Linked DNA regions of Homo sapiens: region 1 is linked to region 2. A link means that fine-mapping ties the variant in region 2 to the expression of a gene that starts in the linked region. Tissue or cell type: whole blood. Region 2 holds a variant in brackets; the other region holds the start of a gene. All regions are shown on one strand. Distances are from middle to middle.

The links. PIP is the estimated chance that this variant, and not a neighbour inherited with it, causes the effect.
Region 1: it holds the start of THBS4-AS1, and the variant in region 2 is fine-mapped to the expression of THBS4-AS1 in whole blood (TOPMed, PIP 0.94).

The regions. Positions count from the first base shown.
Region 1 is chr5:80,080,239-80,088,561 of GRCh38, forward strand. THBS4-AS1 (THBS4 antisense RNA 1) reads right to left here and starts at 3,427. Exons shown (of 8, transcript NR_109930.1): 1 at 3,262-3,427; 2 at 2,122-2,299. It overlaps THBS4 (thrombospondin 4), which reads left to right. Exons shown (of 22, transcript NM_003248.6): 21 at 2,168-2,307; 22 at 2,842-3,049. The coding sequence ends at 2,903. RefSeq lists enhancers at 1-11, 5,588-5,882 and silencers at 2,736-2,825, 3,941-4,155.
Region 2 is chr5:80,137,950-80,148,021 of GRCh38, forward strand. SERINC5 (serine incorporator 5) reads right to left here. Exons shown (of 12, transcript NM_001174072.3): 10 at 9,296-9,335; 11 at 8,141-8,285; 12 at 778-5,861. The coding sequence ends at 5,714. Among named protein-coding and RNA genes, the nearest start is that of THBS4-AS1, 59 kb to the left of the region's middle. RefSeq lists an enhancer at 7,551-8,052. The variant A/G (reference allele first, on the strand shown) is at 5,375.

The DNA of each region.
Region 1 (8,323 bases), 59 kb before region 2:
GGAGAGAAGATATTCAGGGTCAGACCACCCGGACAGGACAGTAGGACCAAGATGGGGATAGAAGGAGCAGAGCTGAGGGGACGACCCAGCGTTGTGGGGTTGGTGCATTTGGATGGCTGTGCCCTTCTGCCATGCTCTGCAGAGAAGCCTGAGGGTGGACATGCCAATCGGTATGAGGTAAGAGGTGTGGCAGGGTCTCTTCTCCACACCCTCCCCTGTGGCACCTCTGGGCCCTGTGTAATCACTTACTAGTGCACATTTCACCCTGACTGCAGCACTATGTCCCTTACAGTCTGTCTTCCCTGCTGGATCACAAACTGCATGAGAGCAGCGCTTGTATCTTTTTTTTTTTTTTTTTTTTTTTTTGGAGACGGAATCCCACTCTGTTGCCAGGCAGGAGTACTGTGGCGTGATCTCAGCTCACTGCAACCTCCGCCTTCCTGGTTCAAGTGATTCTTCTGCCTCAGCCTCCCGAGTAGCTGGGATTACAGGCACGCGCCATCACGCCAGGCTAATTTTTGTATTTTTAGTAGAGATGGGGTTTCACCATGCTGGCCAGGCTGGTCTTGATCTCCTGACCTCGTGATCCACCCGCCTCGGCCTCCCAAAGTGCTGGGATTACAGGCATGGGCCACTGTGCCTAGCCATAGCTTATTATTTTATCTTGATCTCCCCAGTGCCTAGCACAAAGCCTGACATCTACTACACGTGGCATGAACTGATCATCATGTAGGCCAAAGTAGTCTGACTTCTTTCTTTATAGGACTTTTTTGTTGTTGTTTTTTAAGTATTCTCGGGAGTTAGGAGGCTTAGGGCTGTGTCTTTGAAATGTAGATAGTGTTCTTCTTCATTTGAACTTGCAGATCAACACCCATCCTAGCCTATGTAGGATATTTAGGAAGGAGTACTGAGTGCATTCTCCTCATCAGGGCAGGAAAGCAGCCTTGTGGAAAAAAGAAAATCATGAGGGCAAATTCATGTTTTGTTTCTCTTTGTGACATTATGTCAAATGTACTCTTTTTGTCTCACAGTGAGATGATCATGTTCTCAGCCCTATTAAGCCCAATGCCCCTTTTTTATTATAAATATTTTGAAATGCCCCCTTTTCCGTCCCAAAATGGAATCATAGAAATTACAACCTACCTACACGTATAATCTAGAAAATCAATGTGAGCCCTAACAATATCATAGAGAAATAAGAATAATTTATAACAAAATAATTTAAATATTTGAGCACAGCCACACCAGAAGACAAAATGAAACAGACACTTGCACCCATGCCTAGAATCACTACGAAGGTGACATTCTAACAGACTGTTGTGTCAGTGACTTAAATGTTTGTTACACTGGTTGATGACAGCAATGTAAATTTCTCAAATGGTACACATTTTAGAATGTTAATTTTCAAACAAATTTTCTCAATTTACCCTGGAAAATATAGTTTATATTAAAATTTGTGCAAAATATACTTGCTGTTTACAAGTGAAAGTGAGTCAGGTTCTAGGCCCTGATAGTTGCTCTTTACCTACCCTGGTGTCTGAGGAACACTCCAGAAGTGTATGGAATGCAGGACAGGTTTTGATTGTTCTCGCCAGGGCATTGCTCGCCATCCAGCATCCCTGGCTGCCATCACTCAGTGCCACTGTGACAACCCAAAGTGTCCCCACAGATTCCTCCAACTCTACTTAGGGAGTGCTGTCTCCTGTGGAGAATCATTGCTCTGAGATTCCACCAAAAGATATAAATCAGACCAAAGGAAAAGCCAAAGTTTTTAAGCATGGTATCTAGACAAGGCAACTCACATGACAATAAGACACAAAACTTTCTCACTCAAGATAGCAGGTTTGGTTTGGTTTGATTTTTAACTCAAGTTTGATAGTGTGACCAACATCATGTTAGGCCTTGTGAGAGACAGAAGTTGGGAAGAAACACCCCCCACCCCCCTCCACACACACACGGACACACACGGTCCCTGCCCTCAAGGACTTCCAGTCTAGTAAGTAAGTGGCAACAGCTACAGTACAATCCAGGTCAGCGAAAAATGGAGCCTAAAACAGAGCAAAGAAAGACGCAGGTACGTATAAGAAGTGGGGCCCCTGGGCCTCACAGTGGGCACTTTACCCCGGGTTGGATTTCATGGAGGCCCCTCCGGCCGTGTTGTCCGCAGGGTACGATTTTATGAAGGCTCTGAGTTGGTGGCTGACTCTGGCGTCACCATAGACACCACAATGCGTGGAGGCCGACTTGGCGTTTTCTGCTTCTCTCAAGAAAACATCATCTGGTCCAACCTCAAGTATCGCTGCAATGGTAATGTGCATTCTCGTTACTGTTCAACATTGTTACTAGAATTAGTCAAACACTGCCACCTTATTTTTATACCGCACTTCCCCCCCAAAAGCCCAACGCTCATACCACATAGTCATTAAAACCTGATAGTCCCTGTGTACCAGAAGTAAAAAGCAGATCACATTTATCCTATTTTATCCATGTGGAAATTAAGACCCATAGAATTTAACTGCATGGTTTAGGGTTTGGGGTTCAGTGAGAAATCCAGTCAGATTTAATTTACAGGAAGCCTTTATTTTCATGTGGTTAAAACATAATCACAGATGCAAAATCCATTCTGCCTGCTGATTTTCTGCACGGCCGGGAAGGAGCACTCCTGGGCTTTAAGCCAACGGTTTGCAAAGCAGCCTGCAGGAGAAAATGGCGGCGAGGGCCTGCGGGGCGTCCTGGGCGGGCTAACAGCGCCCCCTACAGGACGCCTGAGCCGCGGGCGGGGGTCCGGGGTCCGGGGTGGAAGGAGCCTCGCTAACCTCCCTGTGCCCATTCCTATTGCAGACACCATCCCTGAGGACTTCCAAGAGTTTCAAACCCAGAATTTCGACCGCTTCGATAATTAAACCAAGGAAGCAATCTGTAACTGCTTTTCGGAACACTAAAACCATATATATTTTAACTTCAATTTTCTTTAGCTTTTACCAACCCAAATATATCAAAACGTTTTATGTGAATGTGGCAATAAAGGAGAAGAGATCATTTTTAAAAACCGTGTTGCTCAGACATTGCTCTCACGTGGCTCAGGCTTTGAGGTGCCCGTTCTCGGAGGGATCCCTGTTAACTTGCAGGGTGGTAGTTTCTTCTCAGACCCGGTGGCCGATAAGATGAGCCTATGCGTGAATCACAAGGCCCAGGCCAGAGGTCTCAGCTGGGGTCCCCCCAGTTTGCTCCATACAAAACGCCTAACCGTTCCATGCTCACCTTGGCAGCCTCCTTATTTCGGGTAAGGGGTCTCAGAAACACGTGTTTGGGGTGGCACCTTCCCTAGGGAGGCGTTTTTCTGACCTAGTCCTGGGACAGATTTGCCCAATTCTTTCTGATGCTGTCATCCCATCCCACACCTTCCACAGACTTCTATTCTGGCCCCTTCAACGTAATTCTTAAGCTTATTTATATATTTGGCTCCCCCTAGTGGACTGTAAGCATATTGACAATAAAGGATCATGTCATTACAATCAATATCCCCACAGTACCTGGAATGTAGTAAATAGCCAGTAAATGTTTACTGAATTAATAAACGAAGAATGAATGAATGAATGCCTCTTAAAGGACAGTAGAGTGTACATGATCATAAAAGTCCTCCTCAACTCAAAAAGTCACAACATATCCTCTATTTGTGGTACCAGTAGCTGGATGTACAGCACAGAAACTTGCCTAATTTGTACACTAGCCTTTCTTGTATTTCAATTGTAAATCAAGATCCAAGCAAATTTTTATAAATTCTCTAGAAATTTTGTTTCAAAGAATATTGCTGTGCGGTTATATATTTTCTTATTCCAGAATTCCTAGAGATATATTAAATCATGTATGAAGAAAAAAACACCACAGTTTTATCATGACTTTAACAGTGAGAAAATACAATGGTGCATGCATGAGATCTGGAGGATTTCTGGACATCCTCCTCTCATGTACAGCCTGGAGATGTGTGTGGCCTTGTAATCCAGGACATCTGATCTCCTACATCAAAAACTCCAATGGGGCCAGGTGTGGTGGCACTTGCCTGTGGTCCCAAGCACTTTGGGAGGCCAAGGCAGGCAGATCACTTGAGGCCAGGAGTTCAAGACCAGCCTGGCCAACGTGGCGAAACCCATCTCTACTAAAAATACAAAAATTAGCCAGGTGTGGTGCCACTTGCCTATAGTCCCAGCTATTTGGGAGGTTGAAGTGGGAGAATCACTTGAGCTGGGGAGGCAGAGGCTGCAGTGAGCAGAGATTGCACCACTGTACTCCAGCCTGGGCAATGAGAGTGAGGCTGGTGAAAGGAGGCAGCAACCCACACCATGCCCACCCCTGGGGCAGCCTCCCTGTTGTCGGCTGTGCAAGCCCAAGAACGCAGTATGTCCACAGGAAACAGACTCTCTTGGTTAAATCTTTTGTGTCTATAACTATTTTAGAAACCATGGGCCCACAGGAGATCCAGAACATAATTCCATCCCTTAGGGAGCTTATTACATTTTTGGGAAGACAAAACTTGTTATTTATGCAAAACAAGAAACAAAGACGCATGTAGAACCAGCAGTGTGCTGAAGCCAACTCCTACCAGCTCATAAGAGCCAACTATTCAAGTTTTAGGAATATTGTGAGCCAGTTAAACGGTTGGTAGTTTGAAATTGGCCATGGTGGGAGTATTTACACAGAAACTGGCAAACACTACAAATCAGGGCTCCAGAGAACTGGTTGTTAAATATTTATCAGCACACAAGTGATTATTCTACCTTGTCCTATTCCTAGTTGGCCCTCCTTATATTTTTGAAGCTGATGTAGAAAACTTGAGGCTTTCAGAAAATTTCTTGCATAAGAAATGAAGTAAGAAAAGTGAAAATGGGTGGGGTGCTATGGCTCACACCTGTAATCCTAGCACTTTGGGAGGCCTAGGTGGGAGGATCGCTTGAGGTCAGGAGTTTGGGACCAGTCTGGCCAACATGGTAAAACCCCATCTCTACTAAAAATACAAAAATTAGGCCAGGTGCAGTGGCTCCTGCCTATACTCCCAGCTCCTCAGGTGGCTGAAGCACAAGAATCTCTTGAACCCGGGAGGCGGAGGTTGCAGTGAGCTGAGATCGTGCCACTGCACTCCAGCCTGGGCGACAGAGCAAGACGTGTCTCCAAAAACAAAAACAAAAAAAAAAAAAAGTGAAAATCAGGAAGCACTTGAGAGAAGCTAGCCAGTTGCAGACTGACGGGATGAGCTAGCAGGTGTGGTATGCTCTCCCCCAGGTAACTCCCTGGGCTTCTTGGATACTTGTTATACTCAACCTTAGCACAATGACTCAAATTCCTATTACAGTTCCATTAGGTTAGTAAGAGCCTCATTTGAATCTTACACCTCTAGGACTGAGTGGCCATCAGTCTCTCACCAACTAGTATGAATTCATTCCAATGCCCATTCACCTCCTGACTTTTCATGGAGATCGAGAAGACTGAGGAGCTGGGCATGGTGGTGTGCACCTGTGGTCCTGGCTACCTGGGAGGCTGAATGGGGAGGATCACTTGAGCCCAGGAGTTCAAGTCCAGCATGGGCAACATAGCAAGATCCTGTCTCACTTTTTTTTTTTTTTTTTAAGTACTGGGGGAATGGGAGGCGTGGCTGGGAAAGAAAAGAGGCATTGTCACTGTGGGGGAATGGGAGGCGTGGCTGGGAAAGAAAAGAGGCATTGTCACTGTAGGGAAAAGATCATGGCTGAGTAGAATCCCACGGGAAGTGTGGGAGATCTCTGGGGGCAGGATGAGGGCACTGGGGGCAGCCAGAGGAGGCCTGGGGGCATGGGAGCAGGTGCACAAAGGGATGTGCAGCCCTTTTTGCCTACACTCAAGAAAAAGGAAAAAAAAACTCTTCCTTCTCCCCATCCAGGTTATTAGTCCTAGGCTCCAGAAGTATTATGGTGATTATCCTTAGGTTAATTTTGGAGACAGGCTATAGAGTTAAAGAGAATGAGGAAGATATAGAATCCAGCCACCTGCTATTGAAACATCTGTAGGCATTTTTTATTGCCTAGGCTAGAAGATAACTGGGAACAGACTCAAGCAGCAAAAAAGAATCTGGTCCAGAAGTGAGGCCGTGGGCAAACTAGATACTGTACAGCATAAATCTAGGGGTGAGAGGTGGGGTGCCCCTGTTTGGGATACACGCCTGGGGTCCCCAGTAACATCGGGACTGTAAGGGTGGCTCAACCTTTCAGTGGCATGAAGAAACCCCCTGCAGTGTCCACAGCTCCGCATCTTACAGCCCCGCCCAATTTGGTCATAGGCAACCTCAGGAGACAGAGACGCTCACCCCAAATTTCCTGGGGCAGTATAGTTTCCACAGTGGGTGAGGGTGTTTTATTCCAGAGAAATAATTCTAGTACTATAGAATTAAGTATAGAGATGATGAAGTAAATTGGACCCATCATCCTAATATTTTTGTGTGGTGTTGGGGAATTATGTTTGAATATGTGGCAACGTACTTGAAATATCTAAGAGAATTTGGCATAATTAGAGAATGCAAATTGAACTTGTGATTCCAGTATAGAATGCAGACAGATGCTCTTCACCTTAAAATGGGGCTATGTCCTAATAAATCCGTAAGTTGAACATATCTTAAGTCCAAAGTGCATTTAGTACTCCAATAAACCCAAGTCAAAAGTTTAAGTCATCCATCATGAAGTCCAGATACTCCTCAATTTAAATAGGGTTATGTTTTGATAAAAATCGTCAAACCATCATTAGTTGGGAGTTGTTTATAGTTGAATATTTGGTTTATCATCATCATCATTATTAGTATTATTGAGACAGGATCTCACTGTCGCTCAGGCTGCAGTGCAGTGGTGCAGTCTCAGCTCACTGCAGCCTCAACCTCCTGGCTCAAATAGTCCTTCCACCTCAGCCTTCCAAGTAGCTAAGACTTACAGGCTCATACCACCATATCCAGCTAATTTTTTCTATTTTTTTTTGTAAAGATGGGGTCTTACTGTGTTGCCCAGGCTGGTCTCAAACTCCTGGGCTCAAATGATCCTCCTGCCTTGGCCTCCCAAAGATAGTATTTGATTTTAGACTTGTGATTTTAAGTCAGAAGGTAGGAGAATTTGGTTGAATATGAAAATATTGAGATGATTAAGATAATTTCTCATCCATTATATACATTTTTTAAATTTACAAGTTATATAAGCACATAGGTAGGTTTCATCAAATGACAAAAAAATGCATAAATGAAATTTAAATATATTGTTTTTAATGTTACAAATTAGCATAGTATGTCATAAATTAATATATTACATTTATAAATGGGATTTAGAGTGTTTAAGGAAATTTAATTAAGTTTGCAAATGGGACTAAACATTAATCAAAAGCCTAAAAGTGATTATATATTTTGCTATAGAGTAATAAGTAGATTTGCATATTTATAGAATATAGTAAAGTAATACGATTTTTAAGTTGAATTTTTTAACTTAAGGTTTTGTAATTTGTAACTTTAATCAGATACTAATTTTAAAACCAAAGTCACCATAAATTGTGTTTTCTGTAAAAGACAACCTTTCCTTCAGGAATAAGGAATGCCTCCTACAAGCTCCACATTTTACCACCTCGCCCAAATCGTTGGTTAATAACCTCAGACAATTGACATGCACCCCAAATTTCCTGAGGCAGTAGAGTTTCCTTAGTGGAGAAGGGTCTTTTATTCCTGAGAAATAATTCTACAATTGTAGAACTAAGTACAGATATGCTGAAGTCAATTGGACCCATCATCCTAATATTTTTGTGTGGTGCTTGGGAATTATGTTTGTATATGTGCCAAAGTACTTGAAATATCTAAGAGAATTTGGCATACAGAATGCAATAAATTCAATGTGGGATTCTAGTTTAAAATGCATACAGATGCTCCCTTACTTACCATGTAGTTACATCCTGGGATAAACCCACGGCAAGTCAGAAATATCATAAGTGAAAATGCATTTTATATATATATATATATATATATATATATTTTTTTTTTTTTTTTTTTTTTTAGATGGAGTCTTGCTCTCTCGCCCAGGCTGGAGTGCAGTGGTGCGATCTCGGCTCACTGCAAGCTCCGCCTCCTGGCTTCACGCCATTCTTCTGCCTCAGCCTCCCGAGTAGCTGGGACCACAGACACCCACCACCACACCCAGCTAATTTTTTGTATTTTTTTAGTAAAGATGGGGTTTCACCGTGTTAGCCAGCATGGCATTTAATATCTTGATAAGCCCATCATAAAGTCAAAAAAATCTTAAGTCAAACCATTATAAGTTGGGGATTGTCTGTA
Region 2 (10,072 bases):
AGTGGTATATATACACAATAAAAAATTCAGCCTCAAAAAGAAGGAACTCCTGCAATATGCAACAATTTGGAGGAACCTAGAAGACACGGTTAAGTAAAATAAGCCAGGCACAAAAAGACAAATGCTTCATGATCTTACTGATCCATGAAATCTTAAAAAGTCAAACTTCCTAAGTTTGACTTAAGAGATGCAGAGTGTAAAGGTGGTTACTAGGGGCTGGAGGTGGGGGACTGGGCGAGGGGGGAGTTCAGGGTGATGTTGGTCAAAGAACACAAAATATCAGCCAGAAGTTCAGGAGATCTACTGTGTAACACGGTGACTAGAGTTAGGAACCTGGCACTGTACCTTAAAAATTCTGAGAGTAGGCCGGGCACGGTGGCTCACGTCTGTAATCCCAGCACTTTGGGAGGCTGAGGTGGGCAGATCACCTGTAGTCAGGAGTTCAAGACCAGCCTGGCCAACATGGCAAAACCCCATCTCTACTAAAAATACAAAAATTACCTGGGCATGATAGCACATGCCTGTAATCCCAGCTACTCGGGAGGTTGAGGCAAGAGAATCGCTTGAGCCTGGGAGGCGGTGGTTGCAGTGAGCCGAGATCGCGCCACTGTACCCCAGCCTGGGTGACAGAGCAAGACTCTGTCTCCAAAAAAACAGAAAAAAAAAATTACTGTGAGTAGATTTTAAATGTTCTCAGCACAAAAACATGAGGTAATGCATATGCTAATTAGCATGATTTGGCTATTCCTGAATATATACATATTTCAAAACATCATGTTGCACACCACAGATATATATCTTTTATTTGTCAATTAAAGGATCAGCATAGACTCCATGAAACTTGAGAGACCTGATTAACATCTGAAGGCAACATCTCTGCAAAACAACTAACTTGAGTACTTTAATTATATATGTATCTAGCAGAAGAGAAAAAAACAACACAGTTTTAATTTTAAATTTTATTAAAGTACAGAGTTAACAAGTTTTGAGTTTTTTATATAGGAAAAGCCTAGTCAATTCAGATGCTTTCTAGAAAAATTAACATTAAAAAACAAATAGAAATCCATGACTAAAGGGGGAAAATAACTTTCAAAAGTTACCAAAATTCGAATCATATCAGAGACCATTATAAATTTCAAACAGTAGATTTACCACACATATTGCATTTTCAAATTCTAATGTAGCAAAACGTAACCACATAATTTGGCTACAGCTAATCGTTTCAGAAAAGTTTAAAAAATTAGCAAAGTTATATCTATAAAACTTTTGTAGTTTTCTTTTTGCAAAGTAAAAAGGCTTAAATCTTTAATAAAGGAAAACAAAACAATCCTCTTAAATTTCTTATAAATAGCTCTCCAGACATATATTACAAATCTGCTGTAAGCTTTCTTTACCTGAGAGAACTTCCCAGGATCCTTTATCCCAAAGGATTACCTTAAAGAGTTCTTCCATCATTTTACTCATGTGAATATGATTAAACTCCTATAGAAGTGGATTGGGACATATGCATTCTTAATCTGCCCTTCCCCATTTGTTTCTTTCTGAAAGGATTTTGCTTAAGGAAAAAAAAAGCTCTTTGGTAAAGGCCAAATATTTCAACCTTTCAAAATGACTGCCTCTGTGAAAGAGTTGTTGAGAAAGAAGAAAAGAGAGAGAGAGAGAAAGGTCTAAACATCTGTGTGAACAGCTCTCCAGTACTGTGAAGTCAAAGGCCCAACATTACAGAGCGCACCTCTGCCTGAAATACAAAACTAAGTTAACTAGCAAGTTACAGGAAATAGCCTTCAGTAAATTCCACAAGCCAAGTGGCTACTGCATTGTCCCTGAAGAAGGAGGGCCCAGTGTTCTTTCTGGGTGTGTAAGGTCTTACTTAGTTCAAGGTTTGTCCCTTCTTAGTTGTAGGTTGGGCCCTCTTTCGTTTCCAAGAGGTATAGGACACTAGAGTACACCAAATGAGATACTATTTGGAAAGGCAATAAAGGGAGTGTAAAAGCCTAGGTAGCTTAAATACAGGCTCTGGAATTTCCTTCGCAGGAAGGTGAAGCACCAATGATGGCAAAAATTAAATAAATACATCATCTTAAAAAGGCAGAGGGTAGGCTGCGTGCAGTGGTTTACGCCTATAATCCCAGCACTTTGGGAAGCCAAGGCGGGCACATTGCTTGAGCTCAGGAGTTTGAGACCAGCCTGGACAACCCCATCTCTACAAAAAAATAAAAATCGGCCAGGTGTGATGGGGCAAACCTGTGGTCTCAGCTACTTGGGAGGTGGTCCTTGAGCCCAGGAGGTCAAGCCTGCCATGAGTCAAGATCATGTCACTGCACTCCAGCGTGGCTGACAGAGTGAGCCCGTCTCCAAAAAAAAAAAAAAAAAAAAAAAAAAAGGCTTAGGGTGACAATTTTGACATGGGGACAGGAAATTAACATTACACTGAGGTTATTCATAATAAAGGATCTTCTGAGGAATCGGAAATAAACAATGTTGTATGGAAACAGAACCCCAAAACCCCAATAACTCCACCCTCCCCACAACCCACCCCCACTCTATCTCCCCTTCAAAGAGGCTCCAAATACCTCTGGCAAATAATTTCTTTTTCAGACAAAATGAAGAACCTTTTTGCCCAAGAAACTGTGGGCAAAAATAAAACTAACCAATCAGTATTTAAAAAGCTAGACACAGTAAAGACGTGGTTGGGTTTCTGAAGGCTTATAATGGAAATAGTCTCTAGTCTCCAGTCAGGTAACATGCCGCGGTATGACACTCCCATAAGAACCCCCACCCCCCTGCCACCCACTTAGTGTTTTTACTCATAAAAATGAGGGGAAAACTTTTCTACATCAGACAAATCACACAGAGGAAATATTCACATGCAGCTTTAAAAAAGTCCTCTTCAACTGTCATCCCTAAATGTGTCTGACCAGCAGCTTCTGGGAATATACTCTTTAGGTCATGTACAAAAAGGTGTAGGAAGCAAATGTCTATTATTTTTAAAAGATATCAGTGAGTTAATCAAATTAACACCGTTGTTATAGGAACTCAAAGCCATTGGCACAATGTTTCCAGTTTCTCAAATCACAATTGCACAAAACTGTAGATTCTTTAAATCCAGGAATGTTGACTCCTCACCTGAGTATTGTATATCACAATTAATAACCATTAACATTAACTCTGCATTGATAGTCCCTCAATCCTCAGATACATCCACATCTGTTTTGTTCATCCAGATACACGTGCTAACATTTTCAGCTGAGAATAAAATTCAGAGCAACTGTAACTCTTCCTCTTGCATCAGACCAACCGGCAGAAGGGAACGGGATGTCACAAACCAGACTCACGCATCTGGAAAACGTTGTGTGGCTGGGCTGGCTCCAGAAGGAAGCGACGAGGGCCTTCTACCGGCCACACTCCCTTGCTTGGGCTTCCCTAAGCTGCTTTCTGCAGAGGAAAGGGCCAATCACGGCCAGCCAAGGAATACAAGGCCTTGTCAGCTGGACCTTGACTGCGCGTAAGGTCAGTTTCTCAAATCACACCAGCTGGCAGCCAGACCCAGCCGAGAGGACAAAGCAAGGGCTCTGCTAGACCTCAGCAGGAGGAAAACAATGAAACTAGTCACAATACTGCCCAGGCTCTTTACCTGCTTCCCCTCAGGGTGTTTCCTAAAGACAACCCCCAAGGCCCTAGGCCACTGCAACACAGCTACTGTGTGTGACACGCAGCCCCACTCCCTGAGCCCATTCCTGGCCCACGGAACTCCTGTCCCCTAACTGATTCCTCAGGTTAGAACACGGCTTTTCATTTTGCGACTCCAGATGAATCTTTTAACTGCTGAGTACAGAGCTCCTGCCCTAAAAAAGGAAATTTAATGGAATTTACAAAACAAGGCTCTCTAAACCACACACACAGATGGAGTGCCTTTTGAAACTGAATCTCAAACACTCTAAGTAGGGAAAGTTCTAAAGGAATTCATCCCCTGTAATTTGTTTCCCCATGGGTTTTCTTGGGAGAAGGGCAAAGGAATGAATAGAAAGAATTTCACTAATTTCACCCACCAGCATTTTGGCACACAGAAGCCCAGCTTAGGTGGCACTCAATTCTGCCCAACTCATACAGTAGGGCACAGAAAAAAATGACTAGGCTGAGCCTTTTATTCTTAGATCCTCACTTACAGAGAGCTCGAGAAGATTCTTTCCACCCCGAATGAAATTCTAACAGGAGTTTCCACCAAGTAAACCTTTTCCCTGCCTGAATACATCAACACTGAAAATAGGCATCATCTTGGGTAGCTGCCGAAAGTCACGTTTCTGTATTACTTTGCAAGTACGTATTTTGGAAATTCCTGTGCAGCGTGATCTCGGCTCACTGCAACCTCCGCCTCCCGGGTTCAAGTGATTCTCATGCCTCAGCCTTCGAGTAGCTGGCATTACAGGCACACGCTACCATGCCCGGCTAATTTTTCTATTTTTAATAGAGACAGGGTTTCACCATGTTAGCCAGGCTGGTCTTGCAACTCCTGACCTCAAGTGATCCGCCTGCCTCTGCGCACCTCTTTTTAAGTATATTCGGCCACTTCCACACATTGCCTAACAAGCTTCTTCTGGTCAGTGTGTCTGAGATCCTCACCTCAGAAATTCTCACATTAGCAAACCTACTCCAAGGATGCCAGCATGAACCTGAACGGTATGGTCACGTTACAGATCCAGAACACAAAACGACTTCCGCTTTTACAGTTTCAAAGGCCTCAAGGTGGAGAAAAAACTGAGGGGCTGACCTCAACAACTGAAAGAGCAGTGCATGCAGCAGGCTTCAACACGAAGCAGCTTTTCAGTTAAGGTCCTAAAAGTATTATCATTATCAACAGCACAAACAAGTAAGAATGATAGCCCTCCATTGCTTAGGCAGAGAAAACATGAATCTTGTTCTATAATCATGTGAATAACACCATAAATAAGCGCCGTACTTATTGCAGTAACTCGGATCAGGTAGTGATAATAAGGTGGGGAACCACCTGGGGGGTGATCAGACAAATTGTGCTTTTTCACATTATTACAAAGATGTGGGACCCAGAAAAGATGAGACCTCGGGGAAGGGTGCAGGCAGAGAGTGAAGTCTGTGATTCCCAGCATCACAACCTCAAAGGGAAACGTTTAGGGGCCGTGAAGAGGCAGCACTGAGGGTGCAGTTGAAAAGCAGGTGCCTCCTCTTGGACCCTATAAATACCAGGGGCCCTGCAGGCTGAGTCCTGTCCTCAAAGCCCCCTGGGGACAAGGCTCTAAGAGGCGGAAGTGAGTGAGAGGGGTCTGGATTCTGTTAGGCGCTGGGGACTCAAGATTTTGGCATGTTTTTCTATTCCGAGGATGAGAATGACTGGCCCCAC[A/G]AGATATTTTTATCCCTGTGAAAAGATGCTGTGCCCCAAATTCTGTTTTGGCAAAAACATGCAGAAGGAAGTCAACATAACTGGTATCCAGTTCCTAGGGGTAAGATATTTCAACCATGATCAGTTTGGTTGAAAATTTCAATTCCTTTGGGACAAACTGGTAGTTTCTTTTTGAATTTCAAAAGTAAAAAGCTAATCAGGAGATTTTTTTTTTTCTCTCTCAAAGCTTTTTCAGACCCACTCAGGCACAGGGCGCCAGTCCCTGCCCCGGGGACACTGTTCAAAAGATGGCACTTTCCAGGCTGTAGGCCCACAAAGCCCAGGGGACCGCCGATATCATCACACAGAGAACTCCCGGGTGGGGCAGCAGAGGGGAGCGACCAGCGTACACAGGTACAACAGCACGCATATCCAGCAGGAGGCCATCTTGACCCAGAAGATGGACCAGCTCCCGCTGAAGAAGCTCTCGATGTTGGCACTTTCGTAGCTGTGGAAACAAGACACCTAGCCGCGGTCAAAGCAGGAATATATTGAGATACAATTCACTAATTCACATCCATTTATAATGTATAATTCAACGGCTTTCAATGTATTCATACACAGACTTGTGCTACCATCAACACTACCCATTTCCAAACATTCTCATCACCCCCAAAAGAAATCATGCACCCCTTAGGTGCTCTCCCCTTCCCCATGGCCCCCTCAGCCCACCCCCCGCATTCACCAATCTACTTTCTGCCTCTATGAATTTGCCTATTCTGGACAGTTGATATAAAAGGAATCACATGGTCTCTTGTGTGTGGCTTTTTTGCCTGGCATACAATTTCCAAGGCTCAGCCACGCGGCAGCATGTGTCAGTCCTTCATTCCTTTTTACTGCTAAATAGTATCTTATTGTATGGATAGAGCACATTTTGTTTAGGCAGTCACCAGCTGATGGTCATTTGGGATGTTTCCCCTTTTTGATTATCACCAATGATGCTTGTATGAACACCGCTGTGTAAGTTTTGTGGACCTAGTTTTCTTTTTGTCTTAGGTATACGCTCAGGAGTAGTGGAAGAGCTGGATTACATTGTAACTCAATGTTTAATTGTTTAAGGAGATGCCAAACTCTTTTCCAAAGCAGATTTCACATTCAAACCAGCAATGTAAGAGGGTTCCAATTTCTCCACTTCCTCGACATTTGTTATTATCTGCCTTTTTAATTATAGCCTTCTCCATCTTTTCTTAAGCTTTCCAAGCCAAAAATTCCCAGGAGTTCCCAAAGCATCACTGGGAAGCATTAAAGCTCCCTTCTCCTCTCCTCCTTCAGGAAGAATCTCTCCAATCACTGTGCTTGAAACCACCACTCCCACCACCCCTACCCCAATTCCCTCTCCTAATTTTATTTTTCTCCCCAATACTCATCACCATCTAACACACCATATTTGACTTGCGTCATAGTCTGTCTCTCCTGCTGGACTATAAATCCTGCCTCATAGAACCGTGTGGCACATAGGAGCCACTTGCACATCTGTTGAATGAATGATAAAAGGAAGCACAATGAGCCTACATGTCTAAGCTTAACTTAGTGGTCAAAAAAATTATGATACAACCAAAGCTGTGGACCTGTAGAAAAAGTATGAACCTCTGTGTAGTGCCAGGGAAGGCCAGGTCAATCATGTACTGCCAAGTTAAAAAAAAAAAAGCCTCCAGGGGAAAACATGTATAATGACATTTATGTTAAAAAAAAAATTAGCTGGACATGGTGGATCATGCCTATAATCTCAGCACTTTGGGAGGCTGAGGCAGGTGGATCACAAGGTCAGGAGTTCGAGACCAGCCTAGCCAATATGGTGAAACTCCGTCTCTACTAAAAATAATAAAAAAAAAAATTAGCCAGTGTGGTGGCAGCACCTGTAATCCCAGCTACTCAAAAGGCTGAGGCAGGAGAATCACTTGAACCCAGGGGCGGAGGTTGCAGTGAGCCGAGATTGCGCCACTGCACTCCAGCCTGGGTGACAAAGCAAGACTCCAACTAAAAACAAAAAAAAACTACAGAGGTTTATAAATGCACAGAAAAGGAGAAGGATACACATCCTAGCAGTGGTTATCTGTGTGGGGGAAGTAGAGGCGGGGGGGTACCACATTGTTACTTTTCATAATTCCACATTTAGTTTGTATTTTAAAAAAAGATGTTTCCAATTTTTGTAATGAAAATGAAGAAAAATGGGGAAAAAGATACACAAAATTTGAAGTAGAAAAAAAAGGGATATTTTCTCTTTCTGAAAGGCAGATGAATGCTTAGGAGTTCCTATTTTTCCTTCATTACCATGTTTTCCAGACTGTCCATATAGAGCTAACTTTCCATTTTCTTAAAGTTGCCATAAGCATCACCAGTTTCCAGGGTTAAAACATACCCATCCACTGTTAAAACTCAGAACTCGCTTGTAATCCCAGCACTTTGAGAGGCCAAGGCAGGTGGATCACTTGAGGTCAGGAGTTCAAGACCAGCCTGGCCAACATGGCAAAACCCCGTCTCAACTAAAAATATAAAAATTAGCTAGGCATGGTGGTACATGCATGTAATCCCAGCTACTCGGGAGGCTGAGGCACAAGAATCGCTTGAACCTGGGAAGCAGAGGTTGCAGTGAGCCAGGATCGTGCCACTGCACTCCAGCCTGGGCAACAGAGTGAGACTCCTTCTCAAACAAACAAACACGAACAGTACTTAACTCTTAACTTTAAGGCTTTGCTTCAAAAATACCTAAGCAAATGGGCCACTCACTTGAACCAGTTGGTGACGGTCATCATCACATACAGGGAAGCTAGGAAGAACACGAAGTGGAAGTAGGAGTAGATGTAGACGGTGCCTTTCTTCTCGTCATAAATGACCCGTGGTCCCTCCTTCCCCGGCTGCTGCTCTTCAGTGTCTGTGAAGCACAGAGGGAGCCCAGGCTCAATGAGTGAATGTGTGTGTTTACCATTCAGCAAAGTCACGCTCGCTAATTCTACAGGGCTGTCAGTAGAAAAGATGCCAGAAAGCCATCTGTACCCTCTGGCAACTTCAATCTGTGCCCTAAGCACAAAACCCCCACTCCACCCTAGCAACTTCCGTAACAGGAAGAGTTACCTAATGCCACATTTATTTTTATTTATTTATTTTTTGAGATGGAGTTTCACTCTTTTTGCCCCGGCTGGAGTACAGTGGCATGATCTTGGGTCACTGCAACCTCCACCTCCCAGGTTCAAGCGATTCTCCTGCCTCAGCCTCCCAAGTAGCTGGGATTACAGGCACACGCCACCACGCCCGGCTAATTTTGTATTGTTTTTTAGTAGAGACAGGGTTTTGCCATGTTGGCCAGGCTGGTCTCGAACTCCTGACCTCAGGTGATCCACCCACCTCAGCCTCCCGAAGTGCTGGGATTACAGGCATAAGCCACCGTGCCTGCCCTGCCACATTTATTTTAACAGAAAGAGAACCCTTAAAAACCCTTAAAGACGTAAAACTTACTATAAGCTCAGCAGAAAGTGAGAGTAAAACAAGAGTTAGTTCTCAAGCCCTTGGAATCCTCCAATCCACCTTGGAAAGTAAGGTGAAGGAATGAAATGGCCCCAAAATAAGGTGTCAGGACCTCTTGGTATTTTCCAAATCACTCCTTTTTAAAAAATGTGCTCTCTGATTCTCTAAATCTCACTGTATAATTTAACTTACATTTAAACCAAAATTTGGACTGATTCTCTCTACCAGAATACCAACACAAACAAAACTCAGCTATCCTTCAGGAAGAATGTGAAAAGTGTATAAGTAGTAAGTCAGCTTTAGAATAAAACTTTCTCCTTACTATTCAAGTTATTTGTGTCTGAATCCCAAATGACTACAGATTAGAGTTATAGGTCTGCAGTGCCACACAGGTGCAAAGAATAAAAGCGCTCTGCTTACCCTCTCCACCAGGACTGAAGCAAAAACAACAGCGAGCTATCTGTGAAAGCAAAAGCAACAGTCAGGCGGCTTGTGTTCTATTTCTAGTCCACCTCAGCAAGACAACAGTAACCCTTATTTGAACCACCTCCCAGGCCCTTCAAAAGATGTGGACTGTTCTTTCCCAGGTGTGCTGGGTGTTGGTGACAGGAAACCCCATGGAGGGAGATGTGCCACAGAGATCCTCATCCGTGGACTTGGTGCTCGCTCCTGCTACCATGAATGCTGAGAGCAGAGCCTCGAGACAGGAGCTCCTTTACCCTTCCTGGGTAACTGCCATGGAATGGCTGATCATGGCAGGGGTAAAGGCCGTGCCTTTATGGCTCCTAGGGTTAGGGAGGCTTTGTCCAGCTGCACTGTCCTTCAACTTCACCCTCTGCCCAATTTTGCCTCCCCTTCCCCTTCTCCCTCCCACATGTGCTGACTTTTAATAAATATCCCACGCAACAAACTGCCTCAGCCTCTGCTTCTGGAGAACTCAATGTGAAACCCAATGAACGTGACAAGAGCCCCACTCTCCTGGTGCTCCCTTCTCGTGCTTTGCTTTCAATGTTATTTCATTAAACCCTCTTTGACCTTTGCATTGGGCTTATTATTATCCTGTGTACAGCTGAGGAAACTGAGGTCAGGCAGGTTAACTGGCCAAAGTCACCAAACTAGCTTAGTGACAGAGCTGGAACAGACGAATGCAGGATGGGGACACCAAGATCCATGATTCACAATAGGTAACACGTGGTA